Regions from separate parts of the Homo sapiens genome. Here region 2 is linked to region 1. The links come from fine-mapping of genetic effects on gene expression. A gene starts in region 1. The other region holds a variant in brackets. All regions are shown on one strand. Distances are between the middles of the regions.

Region 1 (9,783 bases):
TAGGTTACTTATAGTATACTTGATAACACACTTCCTAGTAACCAAAATATTTGTTTACCATTAGCTATGAGGATGTATCTTTATAGCACATGGAAAGACATTTATGGTATGTCAAATTAAAAAAGAAAAGAAAATTGTATGTATGTAATAGTCTTTAAGAAAAATTGTCTACATGTTTATGTACATGGAAAACCAACTAAATTGTCATAAAAATGTTAATAGTATTTTCTTTATTATATCAAGCATGTTTTATTTTTAAAAATCTGTCATTAAAAAAATGTAGAAGCAAATTCAGATAAACTTTTAAATGAAGTTACAAAATTTAATGTGAATACTTACTTTACAACTTTGCCATACTTGGAAAATATCTGAAACAAAAGACCAAATATTTACAATTTATTTTAAAATCATAAAACATCAAATTTTTAGGTTGCAGACATTGACCAAATTCTTTGTTACAGTTTATGAATAATTTCAGCCTTCAGTCTATAAGACAGGCCCTAGGAAAAAGTTTTTTTTGGTTACTAGAATAATATACTTACTGTTGTTGGAGTCACATGTATCTGTCTGTTTCTAAATTTGACAATGGAGTAAATACAGAGAAAAAAACTCACTCTACACATGTGGTAGATCTAAGGCATACATACTGGACAGCTGCTGTGTTCCTGAGGTATACCCATGGCAACTATCAACTCCATCATAGTGCCAGATACACCTGTGCTTCAAATGTCAATCTTATGGAGCAGCACTTTTCCAATTCTACCCTCACCACTACCTTGTTATTCCTATTAAGCAATCCCTGTTTGAGAAGGCAAATCCTTAGACTGCTTTATTTAAAAAACAAAACAAAACCTCATAAAATAAGCTTTTATAATGAAAAATCCATTTCTATCAGTCTTCTTCCTCTGCCCACCATTAACATGTTGGTGGAACTTTATACTTGGCTCTCTCTTCTGTTACTTTTACTTTATCCTATGCAATCTCATTTATTTCTACAGTTCCAGCTCATTACCCATATACTAAGAGTTCCTATTATATAAAAAGTCTTTTAGAATGTGTTAGTATATGCAACCAATAATAACGAATTTTTTCGTTCTATGATTAAGCTGTATAATGCTGGAATGTAAAATAACTGGATAGCAGTGTTAGCAACACTGGGTTCTGAAGGCCAGTACAGTCTTCTATATAATACTTACTAATGGCTTCTTGTTTCATGCAGAGTGAAAGCCAGAGTCCTTACCATGATGTAAATAGGTCGTATAAGGCACCTCGAGTGGGCTTACCTAAGATTACCCCTCTTTTTCTGAAATGTTTGTCCTCTAGAATTTGCACAGGTGCCTCTTACTCGTTTCAGGTCTTTATTCAAAAGTCACCTTCTCAATAATGGCATTTCTGACCGCCCTATGTAAAATTTCACTTCCATTCCCAACTTAACGTTCAATAGCCCACCTTTCCTGCGTTATTTTTTCTCCTTAGCACCTAACATCTTAGCATCTCCTTAGTATCTAACACATAATTTGACTTAAATGTTCAATAAATATAGCTTCTATTTTTTTTTCTTTTTTTTTTTTGAGACAGGGTCTCATTCTGTCACCCAGGCTGGAGTGCAGTGGTGTGACCTTGGCTCACTGTCGCCTCGACCTCCTAGGCTCAAGCAATCTTCCAACCTCAGTCTCCCAGGTAGCTTGTAGAGGCATGGTGGCACACACCTGTATTCCCAGCTACTTGGGAGGATGAGGTGGGAGGATCACCTGAGGGGGCGGGGAGGCTGCAGTGAGCCATGATAGTGCCACTGCACTACAGCCTCGTGCCTCAGTGACAGAATTAGACTGTCTCAAAAAAAGAAAAAAAAAAAAAGGAAAAAAGAATTTGCCAGGGAGAACTATTTGCTTAAGGTTATCTGTATCTCAAATAGCAGTCACTCGATAAGATTTACTTACCCGGTACAAGTCATTGTTTGTCAGGGAAAAAGGCAAGTTGGATACATACACTGTGCTCTTACTTGGAGCCAATCCACCACTCATTTCTAAAAGTGAAAACAAACTTATCAGCAATCAGTCTAAACCAGGATTCTTTTTTTGTTGTTTGAGACGGAGTTTCCCTCTTGTTGCCCAGGCTGGGGTGCAATGGCGTGATCTCGGCTCACTGCAACCTCTGCTTCCCAGGTTCAAGCAATTATCCTGCCTCAGCCTCCCGAGTAGCTGGGATTATAGGCATCCACTACCATGCCTGGCTAATTTTGTATTTTTAGTAGAGACAGTGTTTCACCATGTTGGTCAGGCTGGTCTTGAACTCCTGACCTCAAATGATCCACCTGCCTCAGCCTCCCAAAGTGCTGGGATTACAGGCATGAATCACCACACCTGGCCTAAACCAAGTATTATTAATTCCAAATAAAACCAATACATCAGACCAGTCTGGGTATTATTTGGAAAAAAACAAAAAACAAAAACCAATAAAGTATTAACAATCACCGATTTAATTATGCCAGATGTGTACACCTTCCTTACATTTTAGGAAGTTAGGAACAATGACTCCAGCAGGCTGAATTAAGGAATTCCTTTTTCCCAGTCACCACTTAAAAAAAATTCTTTTTTGGTTCTTCTTCTTTCAAGTATTCTTTATACCAACACTTTCAGTGCCAGATTGTATGGGTAGGGAGACGGGTTTTGAACAGATGAAGGAAAAACCCTGAGGCTACTCCTAACTTCCACTCAGACCATGAGCAAAAAAAATGCTCTATTGAATATGTACTGTATATGTACATTACCTGCACCTTGCTCACCCAGGTCAGAAAGAGCATGGGGACTCAGACAGAACCTTAGCCACTGATTTTTGCTAATACACAGTCATGCTATGCTTAATGAAGGAGGTATGTTCTGAGTGTTACGTGATTTCACAGTGCAGACATCACAGGGTGTACTGAGACAAACCTAGATGGTCTAGCCTATTGCTCCTAGGCTACAACCTGTACAGCATGTTAATGTAGTGAATAATGTAGACAGTTGAAACACAATGGTAAATATTTACATAGCTAAACACAGAAAACGTACACTAAAAATATGGTACAATGTATTACACTCTTAGGAGACCACTGTGGTATATGTGGTTTGTTGTTAATCAAAAAGTTGTTATGCTGTGCATGCCTGTACTATGGCTGGGTACCTTTTTTGCTTGTCTTAATATTTTTTTTCTCTGGAGTGGTGTGTTAAGAGGAAAATTTTCTTTTCCCCTTTTAGTATGATGTTAAGGAGTAAATTTAAGCTTTATGTATCGACAATATAAACTTCTTTCGAAACGCTAATTTTGCTTATTGCCAAATTATGAAATGATACATTATATAAATAGGCTTGGTGCCTCGAAGAGACAGACCTGTAGGTATGTGTGTATATGTATATAAAGTTTACAAATGTAATCAGTAATTTTCACATCTTATCTTACAAAGTCAGCAAATTACCGTGAAAATATCAGGCTCAACCAAATTCAAATTTCTGATTTAAAAAGAGCGTGCGGTGTGTATTTGAGATGGGAAGATCAACCATCACAAATGGAAAAATACTGACTCTATGGCATGCCAATTCGTGAAGGAATGAGAAAACTGCCTCATGTTTGGTGTTATGGGGGAATTATTTAGAAAACTTCAGGAACTCAACATAGATACGTCGCTTTTTAAGTTTCTCATTTGAAACTATGCGTTACACGTTCTGCTGAGAGCCGCGAAGGCAGGCAGAGGTTAAGGTCCTGGAATAAAAAGGGTGGCGGGAGAGAGGGGCAGAGCGTTTTGGCAGCCGAGTCTGGGGAGGGGGCCCCGCAGGAGAGAAGGCCGCAGCTGAGGAGGCGTTTACCTTCAGGTGGGTTGGGCCTGGGAGACCAGAAGAGTGCGAGCCCTCGGCTCAGCTGGGGCTCAACCCCGACTCTTCGTAGCCGCTCGCAGCGGCCTTGGCATCACGAGTCCTGGGAGGGGTCAGGCGCGGAGAGCAGATAATAGCAGCCACGGTGCTTCTTCCCGACTGTTTGAGATCCGGGCCCCGAAGGCGGGCCCAGAGGCGAGCGCTTCGCTAACGTCATTGCGCGCGCCGGAAGTACCTACCTGGGATAACGGCGGCGAGCGGACGGCTGCATTTACGGGGTCTCCCGGAGGGCCAGAGTCGGTGAGCGCTTTTTACCTTTCCCAGAGATGGATGCAGAGCGTGTGCGGGCTGCTAAACGGGGGGGAGTGGGCGGGAGTTTTCTGTGTCGGGTCCTGGATTCTCCTGCCTTTGAATTGTGTGACAATTCTGCCCATGCGGTTGAGGGTGGAGAGACGCAGTGGAGTTTGGAATAAAGGGAAGTATTGAGTCTAAGATAGGGGTTCGCCTCTCTGTAGCGCCTTAATATGCAAGAAGACGACTGAGCTAGGTAACTTCAGTGACCCGAGAGGAGTCAGGAAGTCGGTAATTTTACTGAAGGTGTTCACGGTACCCAGCTATTAGGCACTTTGGGAACTACAAAATAAACAGACCTTTTATGTTTTGTTTTGTTTTGTTTTCTGGTGAAGATCTCAGTCTAGTTGGGGAGACGAGGTCAACTTGGGGAGAGTTGGATTCACAGAATGACTCATCTTTAGTATGGGTATGGACAAGTGTTGATCTTCTTGGCACCTTTTCTCTTCCTGTAAATCTATAATGGCTACGCACTGCTTTTTCTCTAAGAGGCCATAACATGCCCACCATTCCTACAGAAAAATCAGAACGTAATGCAAGGTAATTTATACTTCTGCCTACCAGCACATACAGACCAGGCCTCTAACCACTCCCTGGGAGCCTGCGTTCCAGCAGCCTGGAACCCACAGCCTCTCCTGGAGCCTGCACAATCAATCCAGAGTGAAGCCGATGTCTTCTATAGAGACGGAAGTACAATCCATCCAGGGCGCAGCTGAATTTTGAGAGGCCTGAATGCCTCCGTGGCCGACAGGAGACCGCTGGCACTAATTCTCTAGGCATACTTGTGGCCAGCCAAACTTACCATGCTTTACATCTCTGTTATCCTTGGTTACCGCCCAAGATGTAAGCTTCTGTGGTCTTCTGTGCTATAGTCTCATTTCCATGCTGCTTTGTGCTTTCTTTCGACTTAGGCTATCACTGCTTCTTCGTTTCTTCCCCATTTAACCCCTCAACACCCCATCTGTGCTTTCTGAAACCTCTATTTCCTGCTTAAACTATTTTACATATTCAACTTCTTTAGTGAAATTCTCCTTCATCTCCTAACCTTAACTATTGATAACACGTAGATTTTCCTGCCAGCCATTTCAGTTGAGCCCTTTCTCTGACCCTGCATTTAAAGGTTGGGCATGGCTGTAGCCATGTTGAACGGATTTCAATTCCTCAGAATACTTTCTTCCCTCAGTATCTTCACAAAGGCTCTTTTCTCTCTCTGGGACATTTGAGCTCCCTGTTTCCTCCTATCTTTTTCTGGATAACTTCTATTAAAGATCTGAGTTTAGCTGTCACTTTACTTGAGGGGTATACCCTAACTTCCATAGAGTTAGGTATTTTTGCTATGTACTCTTAGCTGTCCTGCACTTCCCTCACGGCATTTATCACATGTATCTTAATTGCTTCTTTGCCATCCCTACTAAGCGAGACTGTCGGTGAGGGACTGTGTTTGTCTCGTTTATCTTTGTAACTCCAGTAGCTAATACAGTTCTTGGCACATAAGACAGTCAGTTATTTCTTGAATGATTGCAGGTGCTGAAGGTATGCTGCAGAGATCAGGCAGTTAACGTTAATGAATACTTCACCCTTAGAAGGGGTCACCTGCCACTCAGCTACAGCTGATTGTGGCTATGTGAGAATATGATCCCAGTTTTGCCAGAACATCTAATTTTTTCAAAAAAAGTTGGAAATACCATTTTTTAAAAAGCATCCTCTCCCAGTTTTTAAATGTTGTCAGTGGAATAGAATTTTATTAAAAAAAAAAAAGTGGGTCAAACACAAGTCTCATATGGCCTATCAGTCACTAGTTTGGAATCTGTTTTAAGTCTTGTAGGGTTTATATAATGGGCTTTGTGGAGAATAATAGGTTTTGAGTTGGGCCTTGATGGACCGTTGGATGTTGAATGAGAGAATGGAAAAAGATATCCCGTTTGGAAAATAAACAGCTCCGTGGTAGTATGTGTTAGTCTGTTTGTGGCACAGTAAGGAAACAGGCATAATTATATGCTTTTGGAGAGAATAGAAGGTTAGATATAATAGAAGGAGGCATATGGAAGATAGAAGTTTGGATTTATTATGGTTAATAAAAAACCTCTTGGATTCTTGATCCTGGAAACTTCACATTATGAATATGCGTTAACAGTTGATTATCCTTTTTTAGGGTAAAATGGAGGGTAAAACACTGGAAGGAGGCTGACCGGTTAAGGCCTTAACTTCCATCCATATATGAAATAAAATTCAGATTTATAAATATTATATGTAGGCAGACATCTGGCATTTTTGTTTACTTGTGTAATTTCAGTTAATTGATCAATTATAATGGACAATCAGGGATCTCCTACTAAGTTTAGTGCAGTACATTCGGGCTTATAAAAGAAGTATCCTTAAAGCGTTGGAAAGTCAAGTGACTTGTGAAACTAGTAGAGAATGCAGTACTTTTTATTTTTTTATTTTTTGAGACGGTGTCTTGCTCTGTTGCCCAGGCTGGAGTGCAGTGGCACGATCATGGCTCACTGCAACCTCCATCTCCCAGGTTCAAGGGATTCTCCTGCCTCAACTTCCTGAGTAGCTGGAATTACAGGCATGTCCCACCATGCCTGGTTAATTTTTGTATATTTTTTAAGTGGAGACGGGGTATTACTATGTTGGCCAGACTGATCTTGAACTCTCAACCTCAAATGATCCGCCAGGCTCAGCCTCCCAAAATGGTGGGATTACGGGCATGAGCCACCGCACCCAGCCCCAGCATCAGTTAATTTTTTTTTTTCAATGACCTTAACTAATTATGTTCTAAAATTTATGTTTAGTTGTCTGGAATTTCAATTTTTTTTTTTTTTTGTGTGTGTGTGTGACGGAGTCTCACTCTGTCACCCAGGCTGGAGTGCAGTGGCGCGATCTTGGCTCACTGCAAGCTCCCCCTCCCGGGTTCATGCCATTCTCCTGCCTCAGCCTTCCGAGTAGCTGGGACTACAGGCGCCCACCACCGCCCCCGGCTAATTTTGTTTTTGTATTTTTAGTAGAGATGGGGTTTCACCGTGTTAGCCAGTATGGTCTCGATCTCCTGACTTCGTGATCCGCCCCCCTCGGCCTCCCAAAGTGCTGGGATTACAAGCGTGAGCCACCGCGCCCGGCCTGGAATTTCAAATATTTTCTAATAGAAACATTAGAATATTAATTCACTCTGAATACTGAGCACAGTGTGCAAATTGTTCTAGGAGCTTAATATTCATCAGTGAACAAATAGACATTCCTGCTTTTTATTATTATTAGCATTAATAATCTAAGATACTATATAGTGTACTTTTAATACAGATTAAACCCTCACTACTAGAAATACTACTAGTAGAAATATTACTAGTGAGGGACTAATGTGTATTAAAAGTACATTATGTGGTATCTTAGATTATTAGTGCTAATTAAAGATAGCACGATTGGGGGATCTGTTATAAGTGACATTAAGAAGGTGACATTGAAGGGCAGGAAAGTTAATTCCACAGATACCTGGATGAAGGGTGGCCTGCCCCTCCACACCTGTGGGTGTTTCTCGTCAGGTGGGACGAGAGACTGAGAAAAGAAATAAGACACAGAGACAAAGTATAGAGAAAGAACAGTGGGCCCAGGAGACCAACACTTAGCATATGGAGGACCTGCACCGGCACCAGTCTGTGAGTTCCCTCAGTATTTATTGTTTACTATTTGCACTGTCTCAGCAAGGGGAATGCGGCAGGAGAACAGGGTGATAGTGGGGAGAAGGTCAGCAAGAAAACGTGAGCAAAGGAATCTGTGTCACAAATAAGTTCAAGGGAAGGTACTATGCCTGGATGTGCACATAGGCCAGATTTATGCTTCTCTCCACCCAAGCATCTCAGTGTAGTAAAGAATAACAGAGCAGCATTGCCACCAGCATATCTCGCCTCCAGCCACAGGGTGGTTTTCTCCTATCTCAGAATAGAACAAATGTACAATCGGGTTTTATACCGAGACATTCCGTTTCCAGGGGCATGCAGGAGGCAGAGGCCTTCCTCTTACCTCAACCGCAAGAGGCCTTCCTCTTTTACTGATCCTCCTCAGCACAGACCCTTCATGGGTGTCGGGCTGGGGGACGGTCAGGTCTTTCTCGTCCCACGAGGCCATATCTCAGGCTGTCTCATTGGGGAGAAACCTTGGACAATACCCGGCTTTCCTGGGTAGAGGTCCCTGCAGCTTTCCGCAGGGCATTGTGCCCCTGGTTAATCGAGAATGGAGAATGGTGATGACTTTTACCAAGCAAACTGCCTGTAAACATGTTGTTAACAAGGCACATCCTGCACAGCCCTAGATCCCTTAAACCTTGATACCATACAACACATGTTTCTGTGAGCACAGGGTTGGGGCTAAAGTTACAGATTAACAGCATCTCAAGGCAAAACAATTGTTCAGGGTACAGATCTTTTTTTGTTTGTTTGTTTTTGTTTTTGAGATGGAGTCTCGCTCTGTCACCCAGGCTGGAGTGCAGTGGTGCAATCTTGGCTCGCTGCAACCTTCGCCTCTCGGGTTCAAGCGATTCTCTTGCCTCAGCCTCCTGAGTAGCTGGTACTACAGGCACGTGCCACCACACCTGGCTAATTTTTTGTATTTTTGGTAGAGACGGGGTTTCACCATGTCAGCCAGGATGGTCTCAATCTCCTGACCTTGTGATCCGCGCGCCTCGGCCTCCCAAAGTGCTGGGATTACAGGCGTGAGCCACCGTGCCCAGCCATGGTACAGATCAAAATGGAGTTTCTTATGTCTTCCTTTTCTACATAGACACAGTAACAGTCCGATCTCTCTTTCTTTTCCCCACATCTGGAGAAGAATATTCTGTGCAGGGAATTGCCAGTGCAAAGACCTATGTTCATCTGAAGTTTGAGGTCAATGTGACTTTGCTGTTCAGTAACTCTAGTTGGCTATCAATAGTTGTTGAAAGAATATAAAAAGCGAAGGAATGAGTTTTGGTGGGGAGGGGAAGCTATTTATCCTGAGTGTATTTAATAATGGAAACTGACTAGATTGGAATGCAGAGTTACTATAGCCTAAGTTGCTACTATAACCAGTTTGGTTAAAATGAAAAAACAGATCCATTATCTTGACTTTGGATTCAGAGTGTTAATGGTTTGACAGAAGGATATTGCCTATGACTTTGTTTTCTCAATTTCCATGACACTTTTGCTTAGAGTGCAAGTCCTCCATAATCTCTCAGCCCTCAGTTGAAGTTAACATAACAGTGGTTGGATAGCCCAGTGGAGTGCTCTAAGAAAGGCTTCTTTTCTTTCTGGAATTAAATATCCCATGATGGTATATTAAACATACCGTCTTCATTGAATATGGCATAAGAGAAAGAGATTTTTATAATCCATAACCAGTTATTAGCGCACTTCTGAATGAAGCTTGTATTCTCCACACTGAGTTCTAATTCTGTTCTTTGCCTAATTGTGATGTAGAGGGTCCTTCTATTGTTCTGTTGATTCTTCAGTTTGAATATCTTGTTGGCTTAGATAACTTTTCTGGAGTACCATCGAAACTGCACTGATATGAGGAGATGTAGTGATGATGTGGCAGGTAACATGATCAC
Region 2 (8,000 bases), 28 kb after region 1:
GATTAGTTAATTCATATTGATCTTATGTTATATCAGGCTTTACAGTTTTTTTTTAACATATATCTCATTTGATATTGATTGATGTGTCATGAATGCCCAAGACCAGATTATGTACAGATATATGTTCTGTAGCTCTCTACTTCTTTCTGTGGATAATCGTTTTTGTTATTTTATAGCAGCTACTAACCTAAGACATATGTTCTCCCTGCGTCCAATTCCCCAAGTCTCACAAAAAACCTACTCATTTTTTAAAACATTAACAAGGTATTCCAGTACTTTGAAAATTAGTTCAAATTTTATATCAGCTTTTATTTTGCTTCTAGACCTGTAAAGCCAATCTCCTCCCTCCATTACTGCTGGAAAAATAGCAAAATGTTTCCTTTTGATCATTCTGGCTCAATATCATCATTAGCTGTTGCTTGTGGGTAAATAGCTTATATTTCTTCTAAATAGTATAGTAGAACAAATATGAGAGCTGTCTTACATAATTTTATTTCTAAAATTGTTAGGCAATTAGGGATAGAGCTACTGTAACATTCTGTCTTAAGTTTATTTTTTACTAAAATGATAATATTGTATTTTTTCTTTTACTTATGATTGGTTTTCGCATTGCTGCATGTCATTTTGAACACCTGGCTTTCTTCGTTGAACAACTTGATTTCCTTTAATCCATGTGAAGACCTTAGTATTAGTTATATTTATGTTATTTCATTAACGCTTTTGTTTATACATTTAGCTCATTCGATTAAGGGTAAGAACTCCTGTGCTTTTTAAAAACCTTTCCAAAACCAAATAGAGAAATTAGTCATTTGTATATATTTCTTTTTGTCTGTTTTAGGATGGCTACAATAGACTAGTTAATATTGTGCCAAAGAAACCACCACTGCTAGACAGACCTGGTGAAGGAAGCTACAATAGATATTACAGTCATGTTGATTACCGAGACTATGACGAGGGCCGCAGTTTTTCTCATGATCGAAGAAGTGGTCCACCTCACAGAGGAGTATGTAAATTTCCCCCATGTACTAATTGTTATTTCTTATAAGTTTAAAATTAATGTAATTTAAAAATTTATGTGACGGCCGTGAAAGCAGTTGAATAAACACTTTCTGCTTGATGCTCTCATGTGAATTGCCTGCTGGAGCTGTCAGATGGGACCTAATAGTCAAGAATCTTGGGGTACTGGACAAAGTAGGTAAGCACTCTGGGTGGCACTATCTAAATGAAATTAATTCCAACCAGCCTGCTTTTTTTATTCCCCTAAATTGGCAGGGATTTGCAAAACCATTTAAAGGTAATCTGTTGTCTTAGTACTTAATAAGTGATGAGCAGGTGGTTACCATTTCTTACTAGATAACCCACTTAATTTTTTTTTTTTTTTGAGACAGAGTCTTACTCTGTCCCCCAGGTTGGGGTGCAGTGGCGCGATCTCGGCTCACTGCAACCTGTGCCTCCTGGGTTCAAGTGATTCTCCTGCCTCACCCTCCCAAGTAGCTGGGATTACAGGCACGTGCCACCGTGCCTGGCTAATTTTTGTGTTTTCAGTAGAGACAGGGTTTCACCATGTTGGCCAGGCTGGTCTTGAACTCCTGACATCAAGTGGGAGGTCACTTGATGATCAAGTGGGAGGCCCACCTTGGCCTCCCAAAGTGTTAGGATTATAGGTGTGAGCCACCACTCCCAGCCTAAAGTCTATTTATTAACTGAGATTAGAAAGCACTCAAAACATCGTCATAGGAAGCAATTTAAAAATGTTAGCTGGCTGGGCATAGCGGCTCACACCTGTAATCCCAGCACTTTGGGAGGCTTAGGTAGGTGGATCACCTGAAGTCAGGAGGTCGAGACCAGTCTGGCCAACATGGTGAAACCCTGTCTCTACTAAAAATGCAAAAATCAGCCAGGTGTGGTGGTGGGTGCCTGTAATCCCAGCTACTTGGGAGGCTGAGGCAGGAGAATTGCTTAAACCTGGGAGGTGGAGGTTGCAGTGAGCCGAGATCGCGCCACTGCACTCCAGCCTGGGCGATAGAGCGAGACTTTGTCTCAAAAAAAAAAAAAGTTAGCTGCTATTATTACTATTACAACTCGCTTCTCTTGAGCATTCTTAATAATGTAGAAGTATGTATTTAATGATGCAGTAATCTGTAGTTGAACTTAATACTATTCTGTGATGGAATTCCTCTGTCCTACCTTGCATGTTTTCAGTATTCCTTAGCTAGGTTGTTTTCCCACCTTTTCTCTTTTTCCCCCTTTCCTACTGTATAATATGACAATTAACAGTACATATTCAAACCCTGTTTATAAAATAATTTGACCTCACATTGGCTGTTGGAATTAGTTTTCATACTTTACGCTTGAAGAAATGGAGGTAAGGTGATTTACTTAGGATCGGTATGTATGGGAGTCTGGTTTCTCTTACTACTGCATCATAGTGACCCCTAACAATTCCAAAGTTGTAATGAGACTATTCAGTGTTTTCTCGTGTTTGTTTCTAAAGTTTGGGGTTTTATAGCTTTCTTAGTTTTCACAGAATTGATTTTTATTTTATTCAGCTTTTGAATGTCATGCTGCTTTTTGTGGTCCTCATATTTATTACATTTTTATTTTATTTCAGTAGCTTTTGGGGTTCAAGTAGCTTTTGGTTACATGGATGAGTTGAATAGTGGTGAAAGTTTGAGATTTTAGTGCACCGTCTCAGTTGTTACCACTTTTATGAAAATCCTATGTGAGTTTTCTATTCATTGGACCAGTTTGTATTTGAAACCTCATGAAAATGATTTTTTTTCTAAAAACTTGTAGCATAATAAAGCTTCAATGGCAGTTTTTTCTAATATTGTTACCAATTGTGTTTGTCTTTATACTTTTGTGTGTATAACATTTTTTCTTTAAATTCTCTTCAAACAAACAACAAGCATACTTGTGATCCTTAAGAGTCTCATGACACTAATTCTTATATAGAGTTCAGTTATGTAATGCAGATTACTTGATTTAATATTTTATTAGCACTGTTAAGTTTTGAATTGTGTTTATATTTAATATTGAGATGGAAAATGATTATATTTTATTTATATAAGAATAGAGTGTGTGATGCTAAAGAGGAAGATGAGGATATTTATTTTAGACGAATCCGTTTTCCTGATACGTAATTTGCATATTGTATTATTCTATGTATAATTTTATTTATTTATTTTTTGAGACAGAGTCTCATTCTGTTGCCCAGGCTGGAGTGCAGTGGCAAGAACTTGGCTCAGTACAACCTCCGGCTCTTGGGTTCAAGTAATTCTCCTGCCTCAGCCTCCCGAGTAACTGGGACTATAGGTGCACGCCACCGTGCCCGGCTAATTTTTGTAGAGATGGGGTTTCACCATGTTGGCCAGGCTGGTCTCGAAATCCTGAACTCAAGTGATACACCCTCCTTGGCATCCTAAAGTGCTGGAATTACAGGCGTGAGCCACTGCGCCTGGCCAATTCTGTGTGTAATTTTAAAGTAATTTGGTGTGGATTGCTATATGGTTCTTTTTTATGTACCTTTGCAAATATGTCTTAGAGAACAAAATGTGCTTTGTTTGATTAATTTTAAATTTATTTAAACTTAAATAAATTTAAATCTTATTCTGATATAGATTATCAATAAGTGACAGTTTCTTATATTGTTTCCAGTTTGGTTTTTAATTGAAAATAAGGTGAGAAAATAAAACTTGAGCAGGAAAAATGGGAAAGTAGCAAGTTTTTCATTGGGCTTGAAACTGAAAATTGGTGAGAGAACTTGACAGAAGGAAAAATGTGAGGTTGAGAAATGTGTGCTTTATTAAATTTAGACTTTGTTCTCAAATAGCCCTTTACTGTTGTGATATTGATATATGTATCTTTGGCAATTAGCTTGTTTGAGTCTACCAAAGAAATAATTTAAGCATTTTAATAGAGATAAATGGTACCACAGGTTCTCAGTCAGTCTACTCTTTCAGTTGTTGAAATGGATGACTTGCTGAATGTTTTTCCCTTTTTATGCCTTTGAAGTTTAGGGAAATTCGGTCTAGTTTCTGGTAGTATTGTTAGATATGTCCCACTTGTCCAAAATAATGTAAACAAATAGCTAAGTAGCTTTTTTATGTTACAGGATGAATCTGGTTATAGATGGACAAGAGACGATCATTCTGCAAGCAGGCAACCTGAATACAGGTAAAAGGATAAAAATAATAGCATAAGTACTTTGATACTTGACTCACTGTGATGTCTGCTTTGGAAATATAGACTCAAGGCACATAGATGAAATATTTTACTGGGATTTTAAATTTTGAAAGCAACAAGCATTATATTCTTTTTGTGACTATGTAGTATAATAGCACTGATAACTAGTGTTCCACATCTCTTGGCATTTTGTAACTCATAAAAAAATATTTAAAAATATTTGGGCCTGGTGCGGTGGCTCACACTGTTAATCTCCGTGCTTTGGGAGGCCAAGGCGGGCAAATCACTTGAGGTTAGGAGTTTGATACCAGCCTGGCCAACATGGTGGAACCCTGCCTTTACTAAAAATACAAAAAAAAAGAAAAAAAAATTAGCTGGGCATGGTGGCAGGTGCCTGTAATCCCAGCAACTAGGGAGGTTGAGGCAGGAGGATTGCTTGAACCTGGGAGGTGGAGGTTGCAGTGAGCTGAGATCGTGCAGCTGCACTCCAGCCTGGGCAACAGAGTGAGACTCCGTC[TA/T]AAAAAAAAAAAAAAAAAGAACTATTGTGATTTAGTTTTGCAATCTAATTATTAAATTATTAATGTGTGGTATGGATTATGAGGTTTGCTTAATTAGTATTTGATTTGATAGGTTTGCTTAATTAGAAAGTAAGGCTTTTTTTCAGAAGTATTCTGGGTTCTTACAAAGTCTATTATAAGGCATCTCAGTTTCTTTAATTAGTGAAGTCCTTTTGGGAAACACATTTTGCAAGGGCCTCAATCGTTGGCTTTGATTACTTACAGAGGGCATCTAATAGAATAGTTGTGGGAAAGAAACGATGGACACATTTAAATTGATTGATAGTTTTTGTTTTTAAATGACATCACAGTGGTGGTATCGAAAGTTGTAAAAGGAGCCTTGTAGAGATTTCTTATGAACTATCAGGGAAAATAACCCCAGTCTCATAGAGAGTGGCAAGGCATCAACTGTCACAACTCCAAAGATGCCAAAAGTAGACAAGATTCAGTGGATCAGAGCAAGACAGATTTTTATTCACAGCACAGCAATCAGCAGGAGGATCAGCATTGTAGTGTAGGTTCCCTGTCCCCAAATCCCACAGGGCGATGTGATAGGCACAGATGGTGACTGTGCACACAGTGGGATACACTGTGGCTGTGGAACCCAGGGTCAAGAGCTTGGTACCTTTTGTAGAAAGCAGAAAGCAAGCTAGTCCTCCTTTCCCTGGGAGTGACCTGCCATAGTAGTCACATTGTGGTCACCTTAACCTATTTAATTGTCTCTGTAACCAGCTACAGAAACTGTTCAGTGTCAGTGGATAGTTAGGTCTTGGAATTTGGCATACATGGCAATTATGTGCAGGGACATTCAGAACCCATGGCAGACTGTTTCTTCCAAAAGAAGCAATAGAATAGATGCCGAAAAAAATGCTTTGATAAAATTAATCACCAAGTAGTTATAAAAATAGCCAGCTGGGAATGGAAAGAGAATTTCCTTGACCGGGTAATTGGGCATTTGCTGTACTGAATGGTAAAATTAGAAACATTTGCTTTAAAATCAGAACAAAACAATGACATCTAGTCACTGCTTCCACTCAACATGGTAACAATGCCTACAGTAAAGCGAAAAATAAATAAGTTGTAGGAATTAGAATGAAAAACGCAACTACTTAAAGATAATATAATTATGCAGAAAATCTAGGAAAGTCTATAGACTGTAAGAACTATTATGAAATTAGCAAGGTCCAATGTAATAAGATCAACTATCAGCATAAATTAGAAAATTTGTTTTCAAAATACTATAGCATGAAAACTGTAATGAGTGATAGGAATAAACTCACCAAAAGAGTATGAGGCCTATACAAGGAAATTACAAATCATTTCTAAAGGAAATAAAAGTGAATCAGAGTAAAAGGAGAATCATGACATCCTTAGCGAGGAAGACTCAGTATCATATAAGTGTCAGTTCTCCTCAAATTAAGGTGGTAATTCAATTTGGTTCCAGTCAAAGATCAAAATTTTTTTTATTTTTTATTTTGCACGGAAGTTGACAAGTTAATTTTAAGACTAATATGAAAGAGTAAAGGGCTAAATGGCAAAAATGCCTTGAAAAAGATGTGAAGACTCAAGATACCATATGTGCATAATTATAAAGCTGTAGTGATGTAAACAGTGTTGTACTGTTGATGTCAAATAGACCAGTGAAACAGAATCTGCAAATAAACCTAGATATATCTGGAGTTTGGGGTACAGTAGCAGTGGCATTACAAATCCAATGGAGAAAGAATGAACTTTTCAATAAATAGTGTGCTGGGACAAACATTTCAAAAACATGACATTGGAAGCTGATATATCCAAATAATATCTGACATAATTAAGACCTATGTGAAAGGCAGAATTGTAAAACACTTTTAAAAACTAGATCAGCTAGTGGCTTATCTTTCTCCTCCAAAGAAATACCTCCCAAGAAATTTATTTTAGCTTAATTGTTTTTATTTATTTATATTATTTTTTATTTGTATAAATTTGATGGATACGAGTGTAGTTTTGTTACATGAATATATTGTGTAGTGGTGAAGTCTGGGTTTTTAGTGTATCCACCACTTGAATAATGTATATTGTACCCATTAAGTAATTTCTCATCCCTCACTCACCTCCCACCCTTCCAAATCTCTGTCTCTCATTCCACTATGTCCATATGTACACATTATTTAGCTTCCACTTATTAGTGAGAAGTGAGAACATTCAGTCTCTGACTTTATGTTTCTGAGTTGTTTCACTTAAGATAATGGCCTGCAGTTCCATGCATGTTGCTGCAGAAGACATGATTTCATTCTTTTTTTATGGCTGAATCGTATGCCATTGTATATATGTACTACATTTTCTTTATCCAGTCATCCATTGACGGACATTTAGGTTGATTCTATATCTTTCCCATTGTGATTTTTCAGTTTGTAAAATAACAGTTTTTATGTTAATTTTAATTTTCTCTTCCTGTCTCTTTTTTATAACATTTTGTGTATGTATATAACATTTTACATAAATGAAATAAAAACATATATATAAATCTCTAATCCCCACAGCCATGATAACATCTTGGTATAAGTTCTTCTATATTTTTCTCTATATTCATAAACATTTAGGGTTTTTGATTGTTTAATTGAGTCTTTTTTTGTTGTTTGTTTTGAGACAAAGTTCTGTCACCCAGGCTTGAATGCAATGGTGTGATCATGGCTCCCTGTAGCCTTGATCTGTCAGGCTTAAGCATTCCTCCTGCCTCAGCCTGCTGAGTAGCTGGGACCACAGGTGTGTGCCACCACACCCATCTATTTTATTTTATTTTATTTTTTAACTATTTTGTAGAGATGAGGTCTCACTTTATTGCCTAGGATGGTCTTGAACTCCTGGGCTCAAGCGATCCTCCTGCCTTGGTCTCCCAGAGTGCTGGGATTATAGGCATGAGCCATTGTTCCCGGCCAAATTGAATCTTTTTAATGGTCAAGTAATAGTCCATGGTGAGGATATGTCAAATAATTTAGCTGGTCACTCTGTTTACAGTACAAAACAGTGCTGCAGTAAATTCTAGTACATAATATTTTCATGAAATAGTACTTTAGTTTTTACGAGATAGGTTACTAGAAGCAGAATTTCTGGGTCAGTGGGTATATATATGTATTTTAAATATTAATAGATGTCAGTTTGCCTGCTAAAAATGGTTTAACATGTGTGTTTAATTTTTTTTAATAAAAATCTTAACATTTTAATTTAGATAATTATTTTTCTTTCTTATTTACTAATATAAGTAGTTTGAAATTTCCT

The links. PIP is the estimated chance that this variant, and not a neighbour inherited with it, causes the effect.
Region 2: its variant is fine-mapped to the expression of PPHLN1 in whole blood (INTERVAL, PIP above 0.99).

The regions. Positions count from the first base shown.
Region 1 is chr12:42,322,079-42,331,861 of GRCh38, forward strand. It overlaps PPHLN1 (periphilin 1), which reads left to right and starts at 4,089. Exons shown (of 10, transcript NM_201439.2): 1 at 4,089-4,151. ZCRB1 (zinc finger CCHC-type and RNA binding motif containing 1) reads right to left here and starts at 4,016. Exons shown (of 8, transcript NM_033114.4): 1 at 3,846-4,016; 2 at 1,941-2,026; 3 at 340-368. The coding sequence starts at 2,024. It overlaps MIR7851 (microRNA 7851), which reads right to left and starts at 1,781; the gene lies at 1,622-1,781. RefSeq lists an enhancer at 3,712-3,761.
Region 2 is chr12:42,351,047-42,359,046 of GRCh38, forward strand. It overlaps PPHLN1 (periphilin 1), which reads left to right. Exons shown (of 10, transcript NM_201439.2): 3 at 839-1,003; 4 at 4,115-4,176. Among named protein-coding and RNA genes, the nearest start is that of PPHLN1, 29 kb to the left of the region's middle. The variant TA/T (reference allele first, on the strand shown) is at 4,703.